Homo sapiens: one gene and its partner. The protein of the gene in region 2 interacts with the protein of the main gene of each other region in a biochemical or structural test. Each region holds a gene or a part of one and is shown on either strand. Other genes may lie near its edges.

The links.
Region 1: the proteins of PIP (region 2) and CD4 form a complex in vitro, tested with the Homo sapiens proteins (one study listed by BioGRID).

The regions. Positions count from the first base shown.
Region 1 is NC_000012.12:6,785,593-6,792,786, forward strand, and holds the start of CD4 (T-cell surface glycoprotein CD4 isoform 1 precursor), read left to right. Parts: upstream 1-3,935; 5' UTR 3,936-4,070; intron 4,071-7,194. UniProt on the Homo sapiens protein: Integral membrane glycoprotein that plays an essential role in the immune response and serves multiple functions in responses against both external and internal offenses.
Region 2 is NC_000007.14:143,134,811-143,140,261, forward strand, and holds the end of PIP (prolactin-inducible protein precursor), read left to right. Parts: intron 1-383; coding exon 384-489; intron 490-4,264; coding exon 4,265-4,379; intron 4,380-4,707; coding exon 4,708-4,832; 3' UTR 4,833-4,929; downstream 4,930-5,451.

The DNA of each region.
Region 1 (7,194 bases), on a different chromosome or scaffold from region 2:
CACGCCTGTAATCCCAGATACTCGGGAGTCTGAGGCAGGAGATTCGCTTGAACCTGGGAGGCGGAGGTTGCAGTGAGCCGAGATCACACCACTGCACTCGAGCCTCGGCGACAGAGCAAGACTCTGTTTCCAAAAAAAAAAGAAAAGAAAAAAGAAAAAAAAATATTATTCAATAGCCAGGAGTTGCAGGGAGTTAGAATGAGGAGTCAGTATTTAATGGGTACAGAGTTTCATTTGGGGAAGATGAAAAATTTCTAGATGGTTACACAACCATGTGAGTGTACTCAGTCCCACAGAGCAGTACATTAAAAAATGCCTAAAATGGCCGGGTGTGGTGACTCACACCTGTAATCCCAACACTTTGGGAGGCCAAGGTGAGCAGATCACTTGAGGTCAGGAATTCGAGACCAGCCTGGCCAACATGGTGAAACCCCGTCTTTACTAAAAATACAAAAATTAGCCAGGCGTGGTGGCGGGCACCTGTAGTCCCAGCTACTCGGGAGGCTGAGGCTGGAGAATCGCTTGAACCCAGGAGGTGGAGGTTGCAGTGAACCTAGATTGTGCCACTGCACTCCAGCCTGGGGGACAGAGTAAGACTCCGTCTTGGAAAAAAAAAAAAAAAAAGCTTAAAATGGAAAATCTTATGTTGCGTGTATTTTACCGCAATAAATTTAATATCAATAAAATTTAATATATTAGGAAAATATTAAACAAGCATTAAGGGTCTTCCAGGGCCAAGGCATCTGTGAGGGTGCTGGGAACATAGTGCTAACTAAGACAGACACGGTCACCGCTCTGGCCTGTGAGCTAGACACTAAGCAGCAAATAACTTCATTGCAACTGGAAAATTGCTACGAAGGGAGAAGCACAGGGGACTGGGAGATCTTATCACAAGGAAAACTGATTTCAACTGAGGAACCTGAGTATCCTCTGAGACTCTGGGGAGGAAGTCCTGTGCAGGAGAATGGTAGAGCAACAAAATATAAACAGCCCCAATCTTGGCCCTGGAGGACGGCGTGCTGCTCCCTCTCTTCTGCACCACCCACCTCCACACTTCCTACATGTGAAAAATAACTTCAATCTTGTTGAAGCCTCTATTATTTTGGGTTTTCTTTTGCTTGTAGCAGAACCCAGTGCTTACCGATAGACAATTCTCCCAGTTGAAAGAAGGTTCTTTTGTGATAAGATCTCCCAGCACCTTGTGCTTTTTCCTTTGTAGCGCTTGTCGAATTGTAATGAAGTTGTTCGTTGTTTAGTGTCTATGTCATAAGCTGGAGTGGTGACCATATCTGTCTTCTTCAACATCACATCCCCAGCTACCTAGCAGAGTGCCTTGGGCTGGTACACGCTTAACTACGTACATGAATGAATGGAGCAGGGCTCAAAACATCAATGCCTACCAGAGCCTGCCAGGTAATGTAAATGAGAAAAGCAGACTGGCTGTGAACAATAGGGAGGGTGTTTGCTTTCTAGTCTGAAGGAAGAAGGCCTGAGGAGGATACATTTTCCCCACTTTGAGGAGCAACTCTGAGGTTGCACCTAATACTTTCACTTCTATCTATTAACCAAAATTGAGTCACTTGGACACATCCAGCTGTGAGGGAGGCTGGGAAGTATATTTTAAATCTGGGTAGCTAAGAGCTCAGCTAAAAATTGAGGGTTCTATTACCAAGAAGGAGAAAATAGACTTTGGGGACAGCTAAAGCGATAGCTGAGATCTGAAGAATGAATAAAAATTACCTAGATCAGTGGTTCTCAGAGTGAAGTGTGGCCTGCAGACCCTTGGGAGTCCCTGAGACCCTTTCAGGGGATCTTCAAGGTCAAGCTATTTTCATAAAAAAATACAGGATGTTATTTTCCTTTGTCACTATGTTGACATTGCAATAATGTTGCAAAAACAATCTGGATAAAACTGCTGCCTTAGCATAAATGAAGGCAGTGGTGCCAAACCATATGATAGTCATTGCATTCTTCACTGCCAGGTACTTACAGTAAAAAAAGAAAAAAAATTAATGCCACTTTTACTTAAGAATGCCCTTAATGAGGCCGGGCGCAGTGGCTCGTGCCTGTAATCCCAGCACTTTGGGAGGCCGAAGCGGGCAGATCAGGATCACCTGAGGTCAGGAGTTCAAGACCAGCCTGGCCAACGAGTGAAACCCTGTCTCTACAAAAATACAAAAATTAGCCAGGCATGTTGGCGGGTGCCTGTAATCCCAGCTACTCGGGAGGCTGAGGCAGGAGAATGGCTTGAATCCAGGAGGCGGAGGTTGTAGTAAGCCGAAATCATGCTGCTGCACTTCAGCCTGGATGACAAAGCAAGACTCTGTCTCAAAAAAAAAAAAAAAAAAAAGAGAGATCAAGACCATCCTGGGCAACATGGTGAAACCCCATCTCTACTAAAGATACAAAAATTAGCTGGGCATTGTGGCGCATGCCTGTAGCCCCAGCTACTTGGGAGGCTGAGGCAGGAGAATTGCTTGAACCCGGGAGGCAGAGGTTGCAGTGAGCCAAGATCACGCCACTGCACTCTAGCCTGGGCAACAGAGTGAGACTCCCTCTCAAAAAAAAAAAAAAAAAAAAATATATATATATATATATATAGAATGCCTTTAATGAAGCAGTAAATACTAATTTTATTAAATCTCAACCCTTGAGTACGGTGTGTCATGAAATGAGAAGTAGCACACAGTACTATATGCTACAGATGAAGTACAATGCTGTCAAATAGGGGTACTTGTGTTAATTGTTGGAGTCGCAAGCTGAACTAGAGTTTTCTTTTCTTTTCTTTTCTTTTCTTCTTTTCAAGACAGGTTCTCACTCTGTCACTCAGGCTAGAGTGCAGTGGTGCAATCACGGTTCACTGCAGCCTCAACTTCCTGGGCTCAAGCGATCCCCCCACCTCGGCCTCCTAAAATGCTGGGATTATAGGCATGAGCCACCACTCCCAGCCCCACTTTTTTCAGACTGGAAAACGCACACTCACATGTGCATCTTTAAATGATCACTTGGGCTGTGGTATGGAGAATGGCGACCAGTGAGGAGGCAGGAGCTGTTGTCCGAGCAAGGGATGATATTGGCATCTTGGATTGGCATGGTGGCAGTAGTGGTAGTGCAGAGTGACTTGGGTAGATTTTGGAGCCATTTAGAAGGTAACATCCACAGGAACTGGTAAATAAATACGTGGGAGAAGTTGGGTGAAGGGGGTGTCAAAGATTACACCCAATTTATTTTGCTTGGGCAAGTTGGTGGATGGTGAGCCCCTCACTGAGTGAGAAGCCTGGAGAAGCAGGTTTGGAGGGTGGTAGTATGCAGGTGGTATGCATAGTTGGGGATGTGTGTTGAGTTTGCTATGTCCGGTGAGCTTCCCAGTGGAGATGTCCAATGGGCAGACGGATACTCACATAGAGAGTTCATGGTAGATTCGGGCTAGAGGAAAGCACCTGAGGCCTGGCCAGAGACGCCTAGAGGAACAGAGCCTGGTTAACAGTCACTCCTGGTGTCTCAGATATTCTCTGCTCAGCCCACGCCCTCTCTTCCACACTGGGCCACCTATAAAGCCTCCACAGATACCCCTGGGGCACCCACTGGACACATGCCCTCAGGGCCCCAGAGCAAGGAGCTGTTTGTGGGCTTACCACTGCTGTTCCCATATGCCCCCAACTGCCTCCCACTTCTTTCCCCACAGCCTGGTCAGACATGGCGCTACCACTAATGGAATCTTTCTTGCCATCTTTTTCTTGCCGCTTAACAGTGGCAGTGACAGTTTGACTCCTGATTTAAGCCTGATTCTGCTTAACTTTTTCCCTTGACTTTGGCATTTTCACTTTGACATGTTCCCTGAGAGCCTGGGGGGTGGGGAACCCAGCTCCAGCTGGTGACGTTTGGGGCCGGCCCAGGCCTAGGGTGTGGAGGAGCCTTGCCATCGGGCTTCCTGTCTCTCTTCATTTAAGCACGACTCTGCAGAAGGAACAAAGCACCCTCCCCACTGGGCTCCTGGTTGCAGAGCTCCAAGTCCTCACACAGATACGCCTGTTTGAGAAGCAGCGGGCAAGAAAGACGCAAGCCCAGAGGTAAGGTGGTCAGACTCGGCTTCCTTCCCCGGAGCTGAGAGGGAGGGGAACGTGGGGCAGATGCACAGGAATGTGCTCTGCCCAGTTGTCTGCCCACAGCTCTGGCCACCTTCTCTTGCATTTCTCTTGGAACTGGTCATGAGCAGCGATTTCCCACTGGAACTGTGAGCTTCCAGAGGTCAGAGACTGTGCTAGACTCCTCTCTGCAGCCCCAGCGTGCACAGCTCAGTGTCCAGAGCAATGGGTGCTCCTTAGAGGAGTAGTGACCTAAATAGCAAGATCAGAGAGGGAGTGAAGACTGGAGACTATCCCAGGCTGGGAAAGGCGTGGAAGGCAACTAGTCGTGGGCAGTTGAGGGGAGAAGACTGGAAGAGGGGAAAAGAGGAGAAAAAGAGTGAAGAAGGGGAGGGAAAAAATTAGAAAGAATAAATAAATATAAGGTGGGAGGAAACCTATAAAAAAGAAATGATGAGGAAAAACATAAAAACAAGAAAAAGAGCAAAAGAAGTGGAATCTAGTCTAGAGAAAATTCTTGCAAAACCAATTTTCCTTAACGGGACAATCTCCAAAAATTGACACCAAATATCATACTTGCAGCATTTCATAAGTCGCATGATCTATGTAATAGTCTCTTTTAACTACCTTTTGTGTTTCTGTGTGTATTTTTAAATTTTTGTCTGCTTCTTTGCTCTTTTAAGATTTTTGAACAATGTCTAAAGGCACTTCTACTCTAGTTAGCTTTAAAATGATTCATGAAATAGGAAAGCTAAAATTCTCAGAAAGTGTTGAAACTGAGCTTTTGCGTATGAATTGCCCTAAAAGTTGCAGATACATATCTTTAGATAAATATGTCATTTAAGAAACGGATTCGAAAAGAATTGGTGGTAGGGGTCTCATGAGGCCGGGAGAGTTACAGAAGGATGTGCAGCCCCTCCTGGGCCTGGCAGGGTGTGAGGGAGAGTGAGGACTCACTGTCCCTCCTGAAGGGAAGCCCTGTGCCATCTCAGCCTTTCCGCCCTCAGACCTTTCCAGCCCCTGAGACCTCATGGCCTTGAAGCCGTGCTATCCCCAGTGTCCTCTGCTTTCCCCTCATAGGCTTCTTCTGGGAGAGAGGTTTCCTGGGGTACGTTCTGATCCCTCAAAACGGAAAGGCCCTGTTCTCAATAATTCAAAGATTTCACTCTGAGTGGGATAGTGCTTCCTGAATGCCCTGCTCTTGTGGTGGACATTTTTATCGGGGCAAGGCTAAGAGCAGGGCCTGATGGGGGAAGTCACTGCTACTTCACATTTTGACCAATAATTCCTTGTGCTGTATCAGATGCTGTAGGCTGATACAAAATGGCCGCCGCCCTCAAAGTCAGATGAAAGAGCCCCTGAGGACAGCGTTAGAGACACTCGGGAGATGATTTCCCTCTTTCAATGTGGGAGCACTTACATAGGAGAGGTCTATATCTAGATAAAAACTCCTCCCACCACTGGTGCTAGACAGAGCTTGGGGGCAGCCCTAGGCTCTGACCCTGGCCGTAATGGCGGGGTGGTGCTGAGGGCAATTGGCTAGACCAATTGTCTTGCACGTTTTATTTTTTATTATTATTTTTGAGACGGAGTCTCGCTCTCTTGCCCAGGCTGGAGTGCAATGACGTGATCTCCACTCACTGCAGCCTCCACCTCCTGGGTTCAAGCGATTCTCCTGCCTCAGCCTCTTGAGTAGCTGGGATTACAGGAGCCCAACACCACGCCCGGCTACTTTTTGTATTTTTAGTAGAGACCAGGTTTCACTATGTTGGACAGGCTGGCCTCAAACTCCTGGCCTCAAATGATCCGCCCGCCTTGGCCTCCCAAAGTGCTGGCATTACAGACGTGAGCCACCATACTGGGCCAGTCTTGCACATTTTAGACACTCAATAAATGTTTGTTGAATGAAATACCTGTGATGGGCCGGGCGTGGTGGCCCACACCAGTAATCCCAGCCCTTTGAGAGGCCGAGGCAGGAGGATGGCTTGAACCTGGGAGTTTGAGACCAGCCTGGGCAACATGGTGAAACCCCCATCTCTACAAACCCCACAAAAGTTAGCTGGGCATGGTAGTGTGTGCCTGTGGTTCCAGCTACTTGGGAAGCTGAGGTGGGAGGATTGCTTGAGCCTGGGAGACGGAGGCTGCAGTGAGGCCTGACTGTGCCACTGCACTCCAGCCTGGGCGAGAGTGAGGCCCTGTCTCAAAATAACTTTGATGAAGGTGGGGAATCAGAAGTAGGTGGGCAGGGGTCTGGGTTTGCAAGGCTCTGAGTTTGAGCTCTGTTCTGTACCTTTGAGGGGATGAGGGAAGGAGGGTGGGCACGGTTCCCCCGATGTGGGTGTCTGAGGCGAAGAAGAGGATGGCGGAGGTTGCAGCCACCAACCACAAGAGTTCCTTAGAGGGGTCACAGTCTCTAGGAAGTTTATAGGAAGCTAGTCAGCAGTAGAGAGGGTGAACGCGGTGGGGCACATCCCGCGGCTGGGCTTGAGTGGGCTGCTTGGGGGTTATGGGGAGAAGATAAAAGTGCCTGTGGGACCACAGACTCTCGCTGTGGTGGAGCTGGGCCCTCTTACCCTCCCAAGCCTCGCCCCTCATCCCATCCCTGGGGGCCAGGGGTGAGGGCGGCAGGAACCTCAAGGCTCTGAGAAAGTGCGTGGTGTGTGTTGCCATTTTGGTCTCTTCTCTTTCTCAGTCTCTCTTTGCCTCACTTTGGATCTATGCTCTGTGCATCTGTCTTGCTTCTCAGAATTTCTTCTTTTCCTCTTTTTTTGTACTACCCTGCGCTTTGTGTGTGATTGTGGATTGTGTGTGCATAGCTGTTGCTTTAACAAGCTGCTCCAGGTCTCTCTCTCCCACATCTTTCCCTCCCCTCCTCCCTTGAGGCTCTGTGCATTCTGGGGAACTCTGTCCATTTCCCTTTGTCCATGTGTCCCTCCCACCCTGCAGCCGGCTCCCTCACATCCACCCTGGGCTGCAGGCGTGCTCGGCAGGCTCCCCACAGATCAAAGCTTGTCCAGGGTCTGCATTGCTGCCAAAGGCCAGGAGGACTGTGTACAGACCGGAAGGAGCTAGAGCTTAGTGGCAGCCTGAGAGGGGAAGCTGAAAAAGG
Region 2 (5,451 bases):
GGGTTGGTTCCATGATTTTGCAATTGTGAATTGTGCTACTATAAACATGCATGTGCAAGTATCTTTTCTAAATAATGACTTCTTTTCCTCTGGGTAGATACCCAGTAGTGGGATTGCTGGATCAAATGGTAGTTCTACTTTTAGTTCTTTAAGGAATCTTAAAGTGTCCTAGTTGTTTTATTAAACAAAATTAAATCTGTGTGAAGTTACCAATCCAATCAACACATGAAAATTCCAGGGGATTCCAATGCTGAACAATTGATCCAAGCCCCATAATTTCCCTCCCTTGCCCATCCTGTGCCCCTTGCCCTGTTCATGGCTCCCCCCTCACTCAAAGATTGGTCTCTGATCCTGGTGTTCTGATTCTCTCTTCCCACAATCAGTCGGAAGATCATAATAAAGAATTTTGACATTCCCAAGTCAGTACGTCCAAATGACGAAGTCACTGCAGTGCTTGCAGTTCAAACAGAATTGAAAGAATGCATGGTGGTAAGTAGAGGACTGGGGGCGTGACTTCAAAAGATAATTCAACTCCTTGATTATAAACATAATTTAATCTCTCACTTTAATAATGTACAGTGTACTTAATGAAACATTCTCACTTATGTTATGCTACTTGAGACTCAGAACAACTGTGGGAGCTTGGGACAGATGACTTCTCATTTTCCAGATGAAGAAGTTCGAATCCAGAGAAGTCTAGGATAAATAAGAAGGAAAGGAAGAAGGAATAGGAAGTGAGAAAGAGGGAAAAAGAAAAAAGTGTAAGAGCTAGTAGAGAAGCAGTTAGAGTCCTTCCAAGGTCCTGAGCATGTTTAGTTTAGGATGGAGGGAGGGGAGTTCTCAGAAGAGAAAGCAGCAACTCCACACCATAGGTTGAGGTGGGTGGGCAGAAGAGGACATGCAGGATATGACTCCTCCTCTCCAGTAAGCACTGAGCGACTCTACTGTCCTCTTGCCTTCTTCTGCTCCTTTGCTCTGGGTCACCAGAAGTGGACTCTTGTTCCAGCCTCCCCACCCTGACAAGGAGCTCGTAATCATCTCCTCCTTTTCCCCACGTTCAGAAGTCCAATCTCTGAACAAGGTCAGAGGTTTTCAAATGGTAATGTGTCTAAAACTCACTCGGGGATCTTGTTAAAATTCAGAGTTTCATTCAGCAGGTCTGGGGAGAGATTAGAACTTCTGGATTTTAACAGACGCCCAAGGTACACCAAGGCTGTGCCCAAAGGATCACATTTTTGAGCAGCTTGGGATTAGAGCATTATCCCTCCTGTCTAGCTGCCAAGGGCCAGAAGTCAAATAGACTTATGCAGTTATTAATCCACAGTGACTCTTCCCTGGGACACTGGTTGTGTGTCCTTTTCCTAGTCATTGATCTCAGATGTCACAAGCATGCAAACTGCCCCCACTACCTTTGTTCTAGGGCCAAGACCCATGCATCTCCCATCTCCCCTACTCCCTCCCCAGACCCTTCATGAAGGACACCTTCTATCAGGCAGCACAAGTATTTCCTTACAACATAAGTTTCCTAATTCAAATGAGACTTAAGGACAATGATTACATGTAAAACAACATTGAGAACATGAAGATTGCTATTCAGTCAACTGCATTCTAGAAATATCCCCACACCTGTAAAGAAAAATTCCTGGTCAATGAGCAAAGAATATCACAGCTGCTTTGTCAAATTTTTCTATTTTCAGTCCAAGAATCTGAGACATGTACACTAATTTGGGGTAGGAGCAAGGCTGAATCATAATTTTTCAACTCTGTATTTTGTTTATCACAAACACAGGTGAGAATGAGAATAAGAACATGTACATAATGTGTACATAAAATTTTTGTGAAAATGGTGGTTTCTGGTGGTAATAGTTAATGGTAGTGGTAGGTATAATAAGATATGTTTGAATCAATAAAATTACATGTGACATAATTTTGTGCTTTTGTGATTAATAAAAGTATGCTTTTAAGAATCATGCTAGTACTCTAAAATAAAGCAATCTTTTCAAAACCCACCTAAGCACAACTAAAAGAATAAGAAATCTTTAGACTAACTGACTTTGCAAACTAGAAATAATTTACAGGAAAGGAAATTTTGTTAATTCTAGTCAACAAATTTTTATTTGTGGCTTCATTTTTCAAAGTATAACTATTTTTAAATTTTTATTAAAATATATTTATATAACTATAAAATTCTTACCATCTAATCCTCATTTTTTATCATTTATAATGTTTTCTGTAACTGAATTTTTGAAAAAGTGAGGTTTAGACTCATATTTATTTATTTTAGAATTAGAATAGAATATACCTACAATCGTATATTTGAATATAAAGATTGCATAATCCTTTAAAGCTGAAGGAAACTTGTGGCAAAAACAATGCTTAAACATTTTTGTGCTACAGGCCATTTCGTTGGTTTCATGAAGTTTATGAAACATTTATCAGAAAATTGCTTCTAAATGTATAAAGTGCATTGGATTACAGAGAGAAACTACCACATTGAGTAACAGTGACTAACTTGTAAAAAATAAATTTGTGATGCAGTAAGGTATGTGTTTCTTTATGCACACATTAGCTGGGAAAGCAATACATTTAAAATATAGAAGAGTTGAATTTTATTCTATGAACACATTATCTGTGTGATGGATGTTGTTACTTAGCTTGAAGAAGTACATTAAACTGCACTGGTCTTTGGCAACACGTCCCACGTGCCATGCTAGGCATGCAACGGATTCTGATCTTTTATTGTACAAGTGGTGTAAATTCTGATTCATGACGATATGTTGTTGCTAATGTAACAGAAAGGTAAACAAGGCCGGGCACAGTGGCTTGTGCCTGTAATCCCAGCACTTTGGGAGGCCAAAGTGGGCAGATCACCTGAGGTCAGGAGTTCGAGACCAGCTTGGCCAACATGGTGAAACCCTGTCTCTACTAAAAATACAAAAATTAGCCAGGGCTGGTAGCACGCACCTGTAATCCCAGCTACTCAGGAGGCTGAGGCAGAAGAATCACTTGAACCTGGGAGGCGGAGGTTGCAGTGAGCCACGTTCGCACCATTGCACTCCAGCCTGGGCAACAGAGTGAGACTCTGTCTCTTAGAAAAAAAAAAAAAAGGGAAACAAGGCACAGGTAGTCTTCTCCAAAGAAACGCCAGGATTCTCCAAGGCATTCTGAGTAAAACTCCAAGGGTGAGAACACCTGAATTTACTGTTTAGGTCTGAACGGCTACTTGATGCTGAGTTGCCAGGTAGCTGAGCAAGCTGCAGGAGGTGGGCAGAATGGCACTGGGCCTCAGTCGTGACCATGAGCCAGTCTGATAACTGCCATACATTCAAGGTAGTACATTCAGGCTGTATTTCGGACCTCTGGATCCGTGCAATGATATGTACATATCTACTTTTCTCCTTGTGATAAAATCACACATACTGCTAATGGCACTGTGGTTCCTTGATGACATTCATAACAGAAGGAATGCTGAATTTCAATTAGAGGTTAGTAATAAAGATGCATATTTTTCCCCTGCCTGAGTCCACAGACTCACTGAATGCTATCCACAGATCCCTCTGGGTCTATGGACCCCAGGATAAAACTGCTGTGTTAAACGTTAACTGGACAAAATCCTCTGACTCCACTGAAATTTATATATACAATAATCTGGGATCTTGAATTGCAAAGCACTCAAGTTAAAAAGAAATTTACATTCAAGATGTTATTTGCTTATCTAACAGCCAGGTTTGGTAGTTAATTGTTTCCACCTCATACCTGAGGAAAGTGAGAGTGAGAGGCCTCTCATCACCAAAGGTCACCAAGTCAGAGAGGAGCACAGATGGGGCTTGGTCACAGCTCTGACAACAAGGCCTGACATTGGCTCCTACACGCAAGTGGCCAGGCTGCTGTCTCACCAGGTCTCAGAGTAAACGTGATTGCAGGTCGATTCCTGAAACCTCTGGCTGGTGACTAAGGCAAGCCTGCTCCTCAGCTGGACAGCTGCCCTGGATGAGCTCTCCTTGCCCTGTGGATTCACTTGCATCCCTATCTCCTCCTGAGCTTCTCCACACTGCTAAGGCAGGAGTTTGAGGGCATTGGAAGGGAAAACCTTCTGACCTAGACTTTGGCTCCTGAAATGATACTACAACAGTAGACTCCCCCTTGCCCTAGGCCCACCTCCACCCCCACTCTTCTCCTCCGGCTTTTCCCTCTCCTATTTTTCCCTCCCTTACCCATTCCCCAAAATAACAATGAATTCCCCCTCCCACCTTCTCCTCACCAGGTTAAAACTTACCTCATTAGCAGCATCCCTCTACAAGGTGCATTTAACTATAAGTATACTGCCTGCCTATGTGACGACAATCCAAAAACCTTCTACTGGGACTTTTACACCAACAGTAAGTACAGAAGTTGTCCAAGGAGGGAACTACCCACCAGCCACCAGGGAGGAGAAACTATAAACAGAAACATGGCTGCGAACCGAGCAGGACCAGGACCTCAGGGCAGAAGGACAGAAGGGAGGGAGGGAAGAGCATGGGGAGAGCAGATGGGGAAAGCACCCAGGTTCTAAGACAGAGGCATTGAGTGCAAAAAGTTGATACAGGAGACAAATTTGCAAAGGATTTGGGGAAACTGAACCCCAGGGGGCAGATGCCTGATATGAGTAGAAAAGACAGGACATGGCCGGGGTGTCTGAGAGATGATCTCCGTCCCTGTCTTTTTCAGGAACTGTGCAAATTGCAGCCGTCGTTGATGTTATTCGGGAATTAGGCATCTGCCCTGATGATGCTGCTGTAATCCCCATCAAAAACAACCGGTTTTATACTATTGAAATCCTAAAGGTAGAATAATGGAAGCCCTGTCTGTTTGCCACACCCAGGTGATTTCCTCTAAAGAAACTTGGCTGGAATTTCTGCTGTGGTCTATAAAATAAACTTCTTAACATGCTTCTCCATGTTCTGTTGTATCTCCAAAATCTGCTCCTGAAGAACCCCAGATTACCTGAAATTTCTAGAACATTTGTCTTTCAAAGAACCTTTACTGAGGAGATTGTACGGGTTCTCACTGCCCATTGGTATGAAGAGGGAGAGAAGAAGAAACTGGGAAGAGGAGCTATGCTCACAGAGAGGAAAAGCAGTGGCCCTAAAGTTCACGGCACAGGAGTGGCAGAGCCAGGGCAGGCACCAAGCCTCCCTGTTGCTTGACCTCTCTCCATCCCACTGCCCTCCAGCAACAGCTCAGATCCCAGAAGACAGGAGTCCTGTTGCATGCAGCAGAGTCAGGGATGGAGTCCATGGCCCCCTAAATGAGCAGTAGCATTCTATGCTATTCTGTTGCTTGTTTTCAATGGATTGTGACACTCAGGGATATCAGGGTCCTGTGCAGCTCTGCCTGAGGAGCTCAGGCATAATAGAGGAGTAAAGGGGCAGAGGGAGCCCTGAGGGGCTTCATCCCAGAGGGCCAGCCCAT